4 linked regions of the Homo sapiens genome follow. The gene in region 4 interacts genetically with the main gene of each other region. Each region holds a gene or a part of one and is shown on either strand. Other genes may lie near its edges.

Evidence for each region. A genetic interaction does not mean that the proteins touch.
Region 1: changes in GATB (region 4) and LARS2 together harm fitness less than expected from each alone (positive genetic interaction), as found in Homo sapiens cells (one large-scale study listed by BioGRID).
Region 2: changes in GATB (region 4) and TFB1M together harm fitness less than expected from each alone (positive genetic interaction), as found in Homo sapiens cells (one large-scale study listed by BioGRID).
Region 3: changes in GATB (region 4) and FH together harm fitness less than expected from each alone (positive genetic interaction), as found in Homo sapiens cells (one large-scale study listed by BioGRID).

The regions. Positions count from the first base shown.
Region 1 is NC_000003.12:45,395,076-45,398,575, reverse strand, and holds part of LARS2 (leucine--tRNA ligase, mitochondrial), read right to left. Parts: intron 1-3,500.
Region 2 is NC_000006.12:155,286,985-155,290,484, reverse strand, and holds part of TFB1M (dimethyladenosine transferase 1, mitochondrial), read left to right. Parts: intron 1-3,500. UniProt on the Homo sapiens protein: Mitochondrial methyltransferase which uses S-adenosyl methionine to dimethylate two highly conserved adjacent adenosine residues (A1583 and A1584) within the loop of helix 45 at the 3-prime end of 12S rRNA, thereby regulating the assembly or stability of the small subunit of the mitochondrial ribosome.
Region 3 is NC_000001.11:241,506,256-241,509,755, forward strand, and holds part of FH (fumarate hydratase, mitochondrial), read right to left. Parts: intron 2,531-3,500; coding exon 2,348-2,530; intron 1-2,347. UniProt on the Homo sapiens protein: Catalyzes the reversible stereospecific interconversion of fumarate to L-malate. Experiments in other species have demonstrated that specific isoforms of this protein act in defined pathways and favor one direction over the other.
Region 4 is NC_000004.12:151,718,420-151,723,997, reverse strand, and holds part of GATB (glutamyl-tRNA(Gln) amidotransferase subunit B, mitochondrial isoform 1 precursor), read left to right. Parts: intron 1-4,459; coding exon 4,460-4,573; intron 4,574-5,578. UniProt on the Homo sapiens protein: Allows the formation of correctly charged Gln-tRNA(Gln) through the transamidation of misacylated Glu-tRNA(Gln) in the mitochondria. The reaction takes place in the presence of glutamine and ATP through an activated gamma-phospho-Glu-tRNA(Gln).

The DNA of each region.
Region 1 (3,500 bases), on a different chromosome or scaffold from region 4:
TCTGTTTCGTCACTAAGGGTCAGAACTTCTGCTTTTATTTATTTCTGCCTTCTGTTTTTTCTTCCTGGCCTTATTCCCTTGCTAGAACTTTACTCCAGTTCTTTAAGAATTTGCTTCCCCTGAAGTAATGCAAACAAACACGAAACAGAATATTCATAACCCTTCTTTTATGTACATATGTGGGATGGGGTTTTTAAATATTGTTTGCTGAATGTTCGCATGACTGATAATACACATAAACCAAATATAATCAGTAGAGCAGAAGAAACCAGAAATCAGATTCTTGCCAAGGAGTTCGTAAACTTCTTTCAGCAAAGAAGTTAAACAAACCTTTAACGGAACCATTAGCACGTGGCAAAAAGAAACCCACAAAAACTAGAGTAGAACTTTTCTTTGTGCTGCCCATCCTCTAGAAATTACCAAGGAGTGTTAAGCTGCCTGAAGGAAGAGATGGGAAAAAGAGAACAATTAAGAAATCTGGATCATACACAAATTAGAAAATCATCTGGAACTGCTGAAATGACAACTACAATGGATTTATACAAACAGGATGGAAAGCAACACATTGGTCAGACACTTTAATTAGAAACTGCAGATTTATAACTCTTAGGAAAACCACAGAAATCTGAGAGAGGACCTGAGATTCAGGGGTTGGTGGGAACTCAGGAACTTAATAACTGTCCTTAAGAAAGTGAGTGGCAGATAACCTTCTCAGCTTATGAGCAAGTCGTCCAAGGAGGTACAAGACCCCATTCTTTTACTTAGTGCAGAATCAGAAGAAAACTATCCACTCAATTCATGCCTTACTCCTTACAATGAATTAGGCTTATGGCTTATTCTTCAGAAATTTTTAGGAATATGGGAAAATAGCTGTTAAGAGTTCTTTGGGAGCTAGGAAAACAGTAAAATCCTTGATCTAAGCTGTTTCTAGTTTTTCATTTGAAAGTTTTTACATAAAATTATTTTTATTATACTAATGTTTGTTATGTATTTAATTTACCAATCTTGCCCCAAACATTTTCCACCTGTAATTTCTTTACTAGCATCTCTTGTTTTACATTTGTTCAATAAAGATTAAATTAATAGCAAAATCAAATGAATAATTATATACTAGCTAAGCCAAAATCCAAATCTGAGTTCATAAAAGATACATAGAAAAGTATTGTTTTCTAAAGTCTTTAATATTCATGAAGATTTCTGTTTATTACAGAAAAGGTATTCAGCTTATTGCCTGTCCCTGCCTTTTGCTTTTCTGCATGAATTAAGTCATTTTCCTCTGTGACAATGAAATGAGTTCTATCATCTGGGGGTGGAAAAGAGAGAAGGAATGATGGGAGTTTCTGTTATAATTGAGCAAGAATCTGATTGAAAGGGAAATTTTCATAATTATATAAAAGTATAAGAATTTAAGCCTTTAAAAGAGATTAAGATTTAAATGATAGGGAAAGGATGGCTTTTATAAGTGGGTCCTATTATTTTTGTCAGCTTCTGACTTTAGAAGAAAGATGACTTCTGCCTCTTTATAGATCACGCTCTGAAGCTGTGGCTGAGCCTAGAGGGTGACAGAGTAAAAGGAGCACCTCAATAGGAATCCGGAGCCCCAGTTCTGGTCCTAGCTTTGTCACTAGCTGTGAGGCCTTGGGCAAATTCTTTTGCCTTCTGGGATCAGTTTGCTAACTGTAAATCAAAGGTGAGACAAAAGAAGGTTTCTGTGTGGAAAAGCATGAGCTCAGGAATCAAACACACATTTGATTTTGAATCCTGGCTCTGCCATGTCTTGGCAAATTACCTAAACCTTTTTCTGAGCCTCAGTTTTCTTACTCCAAAAATGAGGATAATAATACCTACCCGCTGGGTTGTTTCAGGATTAAATGAGATAATCAATTGAAAGACAGTGCCTGGCACATGGTTAAATGCTCATTAAATGCAAATTATTTTTTAAATGATAAATATGGTGATTTCAAGACATTCCATTTCAAAAAACTTATGTGAGTGGATTTCAAGTGAATCTGATACCAGAGTGAGATCGATTATAAATGCTTCAAAATCCATGAGCATTCCGTCATAGTCTCAGGTCCTGATAGACACACCACGTTCTGATCTTTGTGTATCTTTTATTTATGTACCACTTCAGTTTGTAAAATGCATTTTGTCACACATTTTCTCATTTGATTTTCAAAACAATTCTGTGAGATAAACAATGCAAGGAGCCCAGAATCCAAAACATTAAATGATGTGGCCTGGATCACACAGGTTTCCTGGGGCAGAGCCAGCATTGCAGCCCAGGCTCTGGCTCACTCACTGAGTGCTCACTCTGCTTTGCCATTCCTTGATTCAAACCCTGATAGGGGGCTGCCAGGGGATCACACACAATGCCCCTTATGCTATCTCCCCAATTGCTAAAACAATTTATTTTGATCCATTTGATATTTTAAAAAACTGTATGCTTAAGAAGAATGAGATGTCACAAAATCAGTAAGCTACAACATCAAAACATTTGGAAGTCAATAAATGATTATCTAAACCAAAAGGGAAAAAAAAGCTAATTTTACTGTCCTCACTCAGAATTAAACTGCTCCTTAAGAGTTTGTTTTCAAAATCTATTAAGTTACATTAGTCTGATGATGTTGACACAAGGGCTTTTCACTTCCTAACAAGGTAGAAGTCAAGCTTTCATTGTAAAATTATGTATTACATTCAAACCTTCCCTTTTTTTCATTTCATTTTACTTGTTACACACTACATCTTTTTCAATAGCAATTTTTCTTTCTAACCATTGCCCAAAATCATCTTTCAGTTTAACACAAATAGCTCTCCTCCCCTTACTCATTTTTCATAACCACCAATCTCACAGAAAGAATGAATGTGTTGACCGAATCAGGAGATGGGGAAAAGGCAAGTCTAGAGAGGTGTGGTCTTGTGCAGCTGTACTTATTCAGCTGCTTGCCTTGGGCCTAATCTCTTTATTAAACATAGAGGGTTTGTATTATTTGACTATAACTACTACAAAGAGATGATCAGAATTTAAAACTCCAATCAGATTCAAACATTTCATGTAACAATCACATCTCCCAGCTGTCATTTTGACCAGTATCAAGAGGTAAGGGTTAACACGTTCCAGACTGATTCCCAGCAAGCTGGCCTCCCAGAAAAGGAACAGAGAGCACTCTGTGGAAACTGGCTGCAGCCAAGTATTATGCTTCCACCATTAATTCAGGTAGAGTGCCGAGCTGGTGTACCTGGTGCAGAAGCCAAGGGTCCACTAACTCATGTAGCTGCTACCTCAAGGTTAGACCCTACCCCAGTTCACAACAGTGAAAGGGCTGGTGTGCCCCAAACCATGATGCTAAGGCAGCAGAACAGAGTTGGAGGCTACGATTGCCAGGGAAGGGGCAGTTACTTCTCAGAACATGTAGCCAGCGAGGAGCCCAGGTGCCTCTCCTGGAGTCTCAGATATGACCCTGCCAGATCCCTGTGTGCTGCCCCACCATGCAATGGAC
Region 2 (3,500 bases), on a different chromosome or scaffold from region 4:
CTCTGATTTTCACATTTTGCAAGTGAAAGTTTCAGTGGGAGAATATATATATACTATATTAGTCCATTCTTTTCTTTTTTTTTTTTTTTTTTTTTTGAGGCCGAGTCTCGCCGCTCTGTCACCCAGGCTGGAGTGCAGTGGTGCCATCTCGGCTCGCTGCAAGCCCCGCCTCCCGGGTTCATGCCATTCAACTGCCTCAGCCTCCCAAGTAGCTGGGACTACAGGCGCCCACCACCACGCCTGGCTAATTTTTTGCATTTTTAGTAGAGACGGGGTTTCACCATGTTAGCCAGGATGGTCTCGATCTCCTGACCTCGTGATCCACACGCCTCAGCCTCCTAAAGTGCTGGGATTACAGGCGTGAGCCACCACGCCCAGCCCCTATGTTAGTCCATTCTATGCACTGCTATAAAGAGATACCTGAGACTGGGTAATTTATTTTAAAAAAAAGGTTTAATTGGCTCACATTTCTGCAACTCTACAGGAAGCATGGCTGGGGAAGCCTCAGGAAACTTATAATCATGGCAGAAGGCAAAGGGGAAGCAGGCATGGTTTATGTGGCTGGAGCAGTAGGAAGAGAGTGGGGAGGTGCTACACACTTTACAACAAGCAGTTCTCATGAGAACTCACTCACTGTCGTGCAAGAGGGAAATCTGCCCCCTTGATCCAATCACCTTTCACCAGGCCCCTCCTCCAACATTGGGGATTACAATTTGGCGAGATTTGGGCAGGGACAGTAATTCGCACCATTTCATATAGCAGCATTTTCTTATATGCCATTTACTCTTGACATGGCTGTATATGTAATTTTGTATTTTAGCCACAGGAAGCTCTTTTTAACATTTACTTTGATTGGCTTTGTTAATTACAAAACAGAAATAAATGAGCACCGTCGTCTTATTCCTGTCTCTAGCACTACAGGATCTAAGTGTAAGAATTCAGCTCATATGCATTAAGGGACATATAGACAATATGAAGTTACAGTTCATAAAATATAATCAGACTGTTAAGCAGTAAGTGAGAACTAATCCCATCTAACCTCATTTTATTAATATAAATGATGAACTGAGGCTCAAAAGGTTTAATGCCTTCCAGAAGGTCATGGAGTAGTTACAGGGAAGGCTGAACTTGAGTACAGGTAGTGTGTTTTCTGCTAAAGTCATGATGTGCAAGTTCTCGATGCTGCTGGCCCTGTGTTCTTTTCTTTCTGGGTCCAGCATCAGCCTCTTTTTCTCCCACCATCTCCAGAGGACCCTGGCTGTTGATGAGCACATCCCAAGCAGGGAGGGAGTCACCCTCTCCATTAATTACCTTACATAGTTCTCATTGTCCCTGATATATGGCTGTGTAGCTTCTCAAGTGTAAGCCTAATTTTTCTCCTTGTACTTAAAATTATTTTAGATTAATAAGAAAAAAAAAACCACTGTCCTTGTAAATTCTTTGACCCCTTGTTTTTCTCATACTCCATCAAAATGCTTTTTAAAAGCTCAAGGGTTAGAGGTTTCCTTTTAAAGAAAAATTAACTAGTTTGGTTTCCTGACCTTTTGTTGCTAAAATCATCTATCTTGTAATGGATGTTGAATTTTTATAGCTTTCCCAATAGTACATCTATCACAGAAACAGTAATGTATATTTGAGGTTGATAGAACATTTCAGTTTTATGCTAGCTTTGAATGAAATCTTTTGTAGAGCTTTCTGGTCTGTGATTTGAATTTTTCCTTAATGAGTTAGGGACAGCTATGTGTGCTGCTTTTTTCTAAATTGAAATATATGATTCGCATGTTTTCATCTCTACAGCCTGGGGATATATGCTACAAAGATTGAATTGAATGGGTCAGGTTAATGGATTGGGACACATATTCCCCTGACGTTTCTGGATGTGTTCTAAGTGAAATATACTTAAATACTTAAATAAGATCTTTTTTGAATTGTGCCAGTTGGATATTAAAATTTGCAATGCATTTTGAATTTTTGAATTTTCTGCCAGTAGTAAGATTAAGCTCCTTTTTTACTTTATGAAGAACTAGAAATATTTTTGACCACTTGATCCATAAGCTTATTCTTTAACTTAAATCTCTACTTCTGTCATTTTTTGTAGCTGTATGAGAGTATATGTGTCTTGGTTTTACATTTTAGTAAGAAAGATTATATTTTGTCTTACATGCTATAGTAACTCATCACTTATCTTGAGTACGGCATCCCAATAATTTCAACTCTCCAAACAGACAAGAGCCAGACAGTTTAAAATAAAAAGGTCATGGGGAAGAGGTATGAGATGAAAGGTTGGCTTTGAGTACAATCTATAACTTTGCCCATAGGAAGTTTCTTCCATATCTCACACAGAACCTATTTTTTAATCTTCCTTAAGGCAAAGCTCTAATAAGGTAAATTATATGGTTTTCATCCACGGCAGGCTACAAGCAGCAAAGGAAAAGAAGTGATTAGACTATGTGTGTGCATTGCAGTGAAGCGGGAAAGAGCAAACCCAGCAGCTGCAAACCAGCTCAGAAAGCACTGTGTCTTTTACTGTTGAGCAGTGGGGCCCCCTGCCTGCCTACCTAGCCCCAGGATTATTCCAGTAATCATTGGTGTTTGTAATGTTGCCCCTGAATCATTCAGAAGAGGGTTAGAATGTCCTTTGAGCTCTTAAGAACACAGAGAGGCAAGATACATTTTAGAAAGATAAGCATCCCTAAATTTTTTTACCCACCACTCAGCTCTGTTCAATTTTAATATATTGCCATATTTTTATATCTTTTTTAAAGAAATAAAATATTGTTGATATGTTTGGAGCCCTCTTCTATCCCCTTTCTTTCCCTTCTATGAGTTGTACTATCTTAAACTTTCGTCATCATTATTTCCATACATATTTTATCCTTACATTGCAGATAAATACACCACACACACATACACACACACACACACACACACACTCAGAGTAAATGATAGGAGTAGTCTTTTCAAGATTTTATACAAATAGCATTATACTGTACAAATTTTCTGTGACTTGATTATTTTTTATTCCATTTTGGGATTCAATCTCGTATTCCATTATCAGAATTATCACAGTTTATTTTTTCGTTCACATGTTGATTTTTATTATTTTTTTCATTTCTTGACATTACACATAATACCATAATGAACATTTTTATACCTATCGCCCGTGTAAGTATGTATGTACGCTGTGCTCTAGGATATGTTCTTAGAGACCTAGAGGGTCATGAGGTTTTACACAGCTTCAGCTCTACTGTATATTGCCAAATTATGCTACAAATGCTTGTACAGATTTCCTCTCTCACTAGCAGTATCTGAAAGTTCCTATAGCTGCAGATATCCTCCAATATCAGGTTCTGTTAGGTTTTTTTTTTAATTGTTCATTTCATGTGTATGAAATTATATGTAATGTTCTAATTTGCATATTCCTACTTTGTACTGTGGTGGAGCATAGTTTATATTATGGTTTATTTGGATTTCTCTTATGTGAGTTGCCTTATATATTC
Region 3 (3,500 bases), on a different chromosome or scaffold from region 4:
AATACCTTTCAGAATACTAAATTACAAGCTAATCAAGTTTTATTTATACTACTTCAAATCTTATGATGAGCAAAGTATAGGGAAGGATGAGGGTTTATAGAACCATAAGGTACGACAATGCCACTGATAACATGCAGCCTATTTATTATAATCTAGTCTTTTAATAGGAAGCAAAGAAAAACAGCACAGGAAATACACTTTAAAAAGAACAACTTTACTACACTAAATTATTGGTTTACTTGCAGTCTACTAAAGAAACTGAAGTGATTTCTTATTTTTTGGGATGCCTCAGACAACTTTGGTGTAAGAAAAAATAGTAACTCATCTCCCCCAAAAAAATGCAAACATAGAAATATTCTCCATACAATTTCAGTGTATAAACCTACCAGGAAATATGAAGACATTCTACAGAGACTTGGGAAGCTAATGACTCACTGAATAGCACAGGAAGGTAACAGTTTGCATTGAAGGACCTTCCAAAAAGAATAGGAGGTAACGGTAGAGTCAGATCATAGCATCAATGTGCCAATGTCAACACTGGTTCCAAATTTTGACATGCCTTAATTAAAGCAACCACAGAATTTATGTTTTGAACACAGAAAGGGCTCTATTAATAGTCATGCAGAAACAAAAGGCATACACTGGGAGTTAACTGGACAAACCAAGATACATGGTTACACTAAATCTATCCTTTTTTCCTGCCTGAAAACACTAAAAAACCATAAGTGACAGGATGCCATACTGTTCTAAAGAAAACATTTCAAAAGATATAACTCATTATAGGTAGACCTGATGCATCTGATATAACATCACTCATATACAGTCACGCACCACATAATGATGTTTCAGCCAACGAAAGATCACATAAACAGTGGGACCCTAAGATTATAAAACCGTATTTTTACTGTACCTTTTCTACATTTAGATATGTTTAGATACACAAATACTTACCATTGTGTTACGATTGCCTATTGTATCCAATGCAGTAACATGCTGCACAGATTTGTAGCCTAGGAGGAAAAGGCTATGCCATATAGCCTAGGTGTATAGAAGGCTATACCATCTAGGTTTGTGTGAGTATACTCTGTGATGTTCACATAACTATGAAATTGCCTAAGGATGCATTTTTCAGAACATACCCCCATTGCTAAGCAACACATGACTGTATGTATACACACACACACAAACACACTAGATAGATTCACTTATAAAATACACTTTGACAGGGAACAATGCACGAACTCAAAAGACAATCCCAATAAAAGCAAGTATAAATGCTTCTGATAAAGTCAAACAGAAAAATGTAATTTTCTGTCTTAACAGGAAGAATGATGATTTTACACAGGAGGCTGAGTCATGGCCCAAATGGTATTTAGTATTGTAGTTTTCAACACCAAAAAAAGGTTAAAATTAGAAACTTGAGAAATATTCAAAAGTTTCAAAACATACATACTGTTCCTCCTTAGAAATTATGCATGGTCCTAAGTACTAATGATGCAAAGAGAAATGAGACACAGCCTTAAGAAGCAACTCAATCCAGTGAGTTCAATTTAGTCCCATCATTTGTTTTTCAATTACTCATTTCAAGTTTTCCTCATTCCTTCCATAAGGAAATTAAGCTACCCCAATTGGAGTGTGAGTTTACTAAGACAAAAGTCATTCCCTGTATTTCCTTACATTTCCTTCACAATGTATACTATTAGATATTCCTTAAGGCATTGAAAAAGAAACATGAAAATACTTTCTAATATCTTGGAGAAGAGAGTAGTATCTCCTTCACATGCGGCCAGATCCATCTTAAAAAGATCTACCTTATTTAATCACTTTGAGATTAAATTTTAAATAACCTACTAATTTAGGTAAGAAAGACAAAAGAAAAACCATGATGATACTGATGGAGATGACAGCGATGACGGTGGTGATGATGGTAGCTAACATGAATGGGTACTTACTGTGTGCCAGGCATGCTTCTAAGCACTCTACATAAATCAACTTACTAGAGCTTCACAACTATCCTATGAAAGGGAAATTATTTTCCTCATTTTGTAGCTCAGAAAACTGAGGCACAGAAAGGCTAAATGACTTTCCTATGGTCCCATAGCTTGTACACAGCAAAGCTAAGATTTGAACCCGAGCAGTCTGACTGAATCTGACTTATAGCCAGTATACTCTGCTTTTCTTCTAAGTGGATGTCAATGAAAATTACTGATTGGTTGAACAGAACAACCTCTGTCACTGAAGTTTCCGGTTACAAATTTGGCCTTTTAAGCTAGTCAGATTTCAAGGATGACACATTGGCCATTTGTACCAAGCTCTAAATTGAATCAAATTAGTCAAACTCCTATACCTGCCCAAGAGTAAGTGGAACAGCATCCTGAGTATGAGTACGTCCAATCTTGATGATCTGTGCAAACTCTTTGGATTTTGCATCAAGAGCATCATGTAACTTCTGTAGTCCTGGTAACAGTACTTCATGAACTTCTATTGCAGCAGCAATGTGCATTGCTGTGGGAAAAGTATCATTTGAGCTCTGTTGGAAATTTTTCAAAAGAAATATAAAATGTTAAATCAGAGGCAACAAAAACAAACTTCTGAATTAAACTTCTCAATTAAAAAACTCTCCAACTAACTACTCAAAACCCAGCTCAGTTACATGTATGTGTGGCATGTCATAGGTGAGTTATTATAGAATCAAATAAGCAGCATCCTGGTTTCTAACACATACTCAGAACTGTATTATACACATTAAGTATACTGAATGTATTATGTATTATATATGTATTACGTATTATATTATATTATGTATTATATAATATATTATGTATTATATTATGTATTACGTATTATATCTGCCTGCTAATAAATGACAGCAAAATACAGAGAAGTATAGTTAACAACTGCACTTGAAGACAGCAGTAGTATCTTCAATGTAGTTGAATATCTTATAATTATATCAAATTACATCAATTATTGAATTATATATTCTTATAAAATCTTATAATTGAATATCTTACAATTATACAGTGCATACAGTCTTTCATAAACAGCTCTTTATTAAGTTTAGAAAAATTCTGTGAGGTAGATTACCACTTTAAAAATAGGAAAGCCAAGCCCTCAAAGAGACTGTATAAATGCCAAAATATTTAGCAACTGGCAAACCTGAGACCTAGCCAGGTAGTATATACTCAGTGCTCTTTCCTCAACTGTTGACCCTGTACTTTTAAAACATAATATCAAGCTGGGTGCAGTGGCTCATGCCTATAACCTCAGCACTTTCAGAGGCTGAGGCAGGAGGATCAATTGAGGCCAGGAGTTTAAGACCAGCCTGGGCAACACAGAGCAATACCCTGTCTCTGAAAACATTTTTAAAGTTAGCCAGGCATGGCGGTGCATGCCTATGGTCCCACTTGCTCAGGAAGCTAAGGCATGAGGATCCCTGGAGCTCAGCATTTCCAGGCTGCAGTGAGCTATGCTCACTCTACTGCACTCCAGCCTGGGTG
Region 4 (5,578 bases):
CTCAGGTCTTACAATAAGCCAGACAAGCAATTCTTTATTAAAAATCATTTGCTACTCCCACCACCCACCACCCCAAGATCTTTTTCCTGGCCATTATGTGCCTTATCTCTCTCTACTAGTCATAAAATTTGTTGGCCACCCACTGTGTATTTATCTCATCTCCTACCTCTACCCATCACAGCTTTCTCATCTTCTGATTAAATAGAAGAATTAGCCTCTTATTTGATAAATCATTGTATGGGTGCCTGTGTCTAAGGGTTTCTGAAGTCTAGCAATAGAACATCCTCTGCTCGTTGAGAAAACATGTAGGGTCACCCATCACCAAGCACTCCACATGCCAGAGACTGCACTGAAAGAACACTCAATTCTTTCATGTAGTTAAAAGAACACAATGCTTGCCCTCTGAGAGTTCAACATCTGGAAACAAATCTAAAGAGGGAGAAACTGGCAAGAAGAAACACATTAGAAATAGCATCTGCCTTAAATGATGTACAGTAGGATTTGGGTTGAGGTGCTGCTCTGGAGTTATGGCCTGCTGTTAGTAGTCTTGATAGCTAAAACTAACATGCTTTTTTCTTGTAAGATTTCAGATTGAATATAGTGGTTGAGAGCCTGGATTCTGGGATCTGACTTCCTGGCTCTGCCACTTCCATGTGTCACCCTGACCAAACTGTGTCATCTCTATGCTTCCCTTCATTGTAAGATGAGGATCATAATAGTATTTACCCTAGGAATGAGAGGATTCAATGGCATGTGTGTGTGATGTGCAGCACACCTCCTGACACAGTGTCAGTGCACAATAAATACTCGCTGCTGACCCTTCCTGAAGCCAAAAAGAAGCCTCTGAAGGCTCAGCTGAGAAAGGTGTGCTGCGTGAGTACCAAAAATTACTGCCTTCTTTCCAAACGAGAGCTGCTATGGCTAACCCTGAGATCCTTTGTAGTCATTTAATTACAGAGAAATTCTGGAACATACTTTCTTCAAGCCAAGTTAGTCTTTTTAGTTTTTAAATTACATCTTGATCGTATCACACACAATCAGTTGTCACTTCAGGGCACTTCCAGAAACAAGTTTGCAGGCCAGCATGTGGCAGGTAACACCTTAGAGGAGACTGGGGCATCACTGCCTCTCTGAAATCGTCCATTGATATCATCCCCTCCCTCCTCCTTTGAGCTCAGCACACATTAATCAAATACCACAATTTTTCAGGTTCTGTATTAGGCTCCAGGGATACAAGGGTGAACAGACAATTCCCGTCCTCATGAAATGTGCAATTGTGTGGAACTACATGTGAACAAATTCAATCCACTGTGATGGAAGCCCCAATGGGAGTGTGTAGAAGGTCAGAAGAGGTACACAGAAAGGACAACAAGGAAGGCTTCACAGAAGTGGTGACGTCCCACTAGGATTTTGAAGGGAATAAGAATGGGGAGAATCAGAAGATCAGCACGGTTTGCACAGAGGAACTACAGCAGAGGTGTTGTGGGGGGACATGGTGGTAGATGAAATTGAAGATGTAGGCAGGAGTTTGATCATGTAAGAGCTTGGCCTTTGTCGTGGGAACATCAGGGGCCATTGAGGGACTTCAGGTAACAGAATGCCACAGATCCACAATTTTAGCAGGATCACCCTAGTATGAAAGACAAACTTGAAAAGGGTTTGCAGATGCTGGCAGGTTCATGTCACCACTGCGGATTCATTGAGGGCAGAGACAGAGTCCTATTTATCTATGTACCCCTAAAGTTTAGTGCTTTATAGACATTTAAGAATTTTTTTTTTCAGAGTGAAGACAGCCCAAGTTGAATTTTCCCATTCTGTATCCTATCCTCAGAACATGCTGACCTGGACTTCCATCTGTCACAAGCAGCTTGACTAAGATCCTAGGAAATTCCTTTTTTTCTTGGCATTCTTCTAACTGACACTCTCTGTTTACTGGGCCCTCTGTGCATCTGTAACGTGTGATGACTGATGCTTATAATTCTGACCTTGAAGTACTTCATGGCTTCTAAATCATCAAAAAAAGATTAAAGCATATTCTCAGTATCACTGTAATGTTTGTGTGTTTTACTGCCTTCTTCTCTGGAAAGTGGTGGTTTATGAAGTGCCCGTGCGCTTGTGTGCACACGGACACAGTGAGAGTCTGTGATGGTCCTCAACTCTTCTCCCACAGGGAGGCTATGGTGCGTGCTTGAAAATAAACAAACAAAATAACCTGGGTTCTCTTCATGCCTAGCAGGAGGAAGCAGCTTGGTCCCAGGGGCAAAGAAGCTTGAAATGAGAGCGAAAGCAGTGGTTAGGAAAGCAGAGGGAATGATGAGGCAGAACTGGTGCAGACCAGGAGTCAGGCAGTTTACGAGCCAGCCCTGGCTGACTGCATTCTGACCCCAGGAAGAGCAAAGCCCAGGGTCGGGACTGCAGCTTCATGTTCTGTGTGCCTGGACCCGAATCATCAGGCTTGGATTTGGCGGGATTCTCCACCAGCTATGTTTGTATCTCAGTAACAACCGCTCAGTAAAATGCCAGACATTAGGCAAGTGAAAACATCAATAATTAGAGCCTCCTGTTCCCCACACATCTTTTCTTGAAAACCTTTATTGCTGCAGAGCTGACATTATTAGGCACAGAATGAAGAACTCCAAATAGAAACTGTGAAATGGCTCCATCTTATAACCTGAGTCCTGAAAAATAAGGGTGTGATGTTGTCACTAGGCGGGAGATTTGTTTAGGTTTTCTTTTTTTCTTTTCTTTTTCCTTTTTTTTGAGATGGAGTCTCGCTCTGTCGCCCAGGCTGGAGTGCAGTGGCGAGATCTCGGCTCACTGCAACCTCCACCTCCCGGGTTCAAGTGATTCTCCTGCCTCAGCCTCCCAAGTAACTGGGACTACAGGTGCCTGCCATCACACCTAGCTAATTTTTTGTATTTTTAGTAGAGACGGGGTTTCACTGTGTTAGCCAGGATGGTCTCGATCTCCTGACCTCGTGATATACCCGCCTTGGCTTCCCAAAGTGCTGGGATTACAGGCATGAGCCACCACGCCTGGCCCTTGTTTGGGTTTTCTTTGGGGACCGTATATTGCAGTAAATAGAAATGCCCCTTCCATTTTGTTGTAGAAATTTGTTTTTAAAATCTGTGTTTGGTCTACACTCGTCATCCCAGCCTAAAGAGCCAGTCCCTGAACCACAGAAGTTCTGTTTGCCGCCTCTCAGCCACGGCATGTGTGGGCTTTACAGGCAGCTTTACCACTTGCCAGTTCTGTGAATTTGGGCAAATGTTTTAGACTCTTTGGGTCTTAGTTTTGTTTTTTTAATCTGAAATATTGGAATAATGCAGATTCCTTATTTTACAGCGTTGCTGTGAGGCTGAAATAAAATGGTGGATGTGGAAATGCTCAACTAGAAGGCCCTATCTATATCAATAATAGTATATTAAATATACTAAAGAACATCATAAATATCCTAACAAAAATAGAAATATATTTCATCTGCAAACATGACATCCTCCAAAATTGTCCCAAAGTAGAGTAGGGAAATGAACTATTTATTGAATCTCTACCTTAGGGGAGGTGTTCCAGCTATCACTTTATCTGTTCTGCAAAGTAGATCTTAAATCCCACTTTTAGACACAAGGAAACTGAGACTCCTAGTCACAGCAGAAGTGGGATTTGAACCTGACTCGAGAACTTAATGCTCCTTCTCCTTGGCTACATTATCTCGTTGTCTAGTTCCAGACCCCCAGTGTTCTTAAAAGCTTTGACATTCTTTGGTGCTGGGAAGTGTGCCAGCCATTTCTTGGTCATTCACTCCTGTAAGTGGGACAGGGTGGCACCCAGAGGGAACTGGAGCACCAGGTGCCCCCAGAGAGACCAGCAGCACGGAGTCGTCCAGTGTGTGGGACAGGCCCTCCGTTGGCGTTCCACTTTTAGGGAGTTGGCCTGGCATGGACAGAAAGCCAGGCAACAGCTGTGCCACATTTCCTAGCCCTTGAGAAAATGGCTACGGCCCTGTCGTTTTCAGAAGTTCATTCTTTTTCTGTCAAAGTGAAGCCACCCTTCCTCAGGACTCCTCTCAGCAATCAGTGCCTCTTGTGTATTCTGACCGGCCCCTTATTCTGTTTGTAGAGGGAGTGAGATTAGATTTATTCTATGTAGTAACCACTCCGCTAAGCTTTTCTGCGACTCTTCCTGTTAGCTTTGATGCCGGGCACTGGGGGAAAGGGTTCCCGATGTGGCAGTTCCTTAAGTGCCCGGTGGGACCCACTGCTGCATACATTTTCTTCTTTATATCCTTCCCTGATTCCCAGGCAAACAGACTCGGCTTGTGAACTGGAGCTGCCCACCCAGAGAACCAGAGATAATGCCTGTTGAAGGGCCAAGTTGCATATTCAGCGAGGATGTCAGTGTGTGGGAGAAGCATTTGTTCAGCCTGCGGTTCTGAGAGGAACTGTGTGTTGTGTTCCCATAGGTTCTCAACAGGAGGTGTGTAGAAGCGGCGGTGATGACAGGCCTGGCTCTGAACTGCCACATAAACAAGAAGTCCTTGTTTGACAGGAAGCACTACTTCTATGCAGACCTCCCTGTAAGTACACTTTGTGATCCACCCCACTGCAAGTTCTCAGAGCTGGGCCAGCCCTGCTGTGGGGGGTCGGAGCAAGGGAAAGGGGCTGTGCCTCTCATGTTTTCAGCCAGCACTGTGTCCATCCCAGCAGGAAGTTCGGCCCAGCCCTGATGCAGGCAGGTGCCCCTGATGGTTACTAGATCGGATGCAGTTGTCCTGATTGCTGACTTCTTGCTTACCTCATGCTTCTGGTGGCTCGCTCATAATTGCACAGGGAGTAGAAGCCAGTGTTTGCAGGCTCAGCCTGGCCGTGGTATTTGGTGCTAATTGCCTGTTAGTACAAAAGCTAAGGCTCTGGCTGATGCAACAGTAAATGCATACTGTAGTTCTGTCAGCAGAGCGAGAGCGAATCGCTTTTAAGTTGAAGTTCCCAATAATAGGGCTGTCTCCTTTGGAGACATTTCTGTCATCTCACAAGGAGCAAGTAAGTGGACAATAGTAAGCGGAAACATGAACCAGAAATCTGGACCAAGAACAGTAAACTGTTGGTCCAGTTACTTGGCTGAGCAGTAAACTCCATATTGACCCGCTTTTTTCTGAAAATTAAAAGGTTTTTTTCTTTAAGCCACACCATGTGAGTGAGAGCCAATTTTTCATACTATTGAACAGGAACAAAACTGAAATGTTGAATGGGTTTCCCAAAATAATGTTTTGTTTGGTCTGATTCAGAAAAACAACAGTGATGATGTTGCTTCACCTCTTTCTCCTTGAACTGAAGATTGGGGCGAGCTGTTTTTTAGTGGGTGAGGGCACGAGTAGAATTAAATAAAAAATACAAGTAAGACCTGCGTTCTCCAGTGGCTGCTGCTTTTCCCCTCTGGCCTCCAGCCTCTCAGCAAGTCTACTGTTTGGTAGGGCGGAAAGAATTAAACCGCCTTTCTTTATCTTTTAAGAGTGACAGACAGTTTGGTTGAGGTGGGAGATTTAGTAATAATATGACTAAAATGAGATGTTTTGGTCATCTGT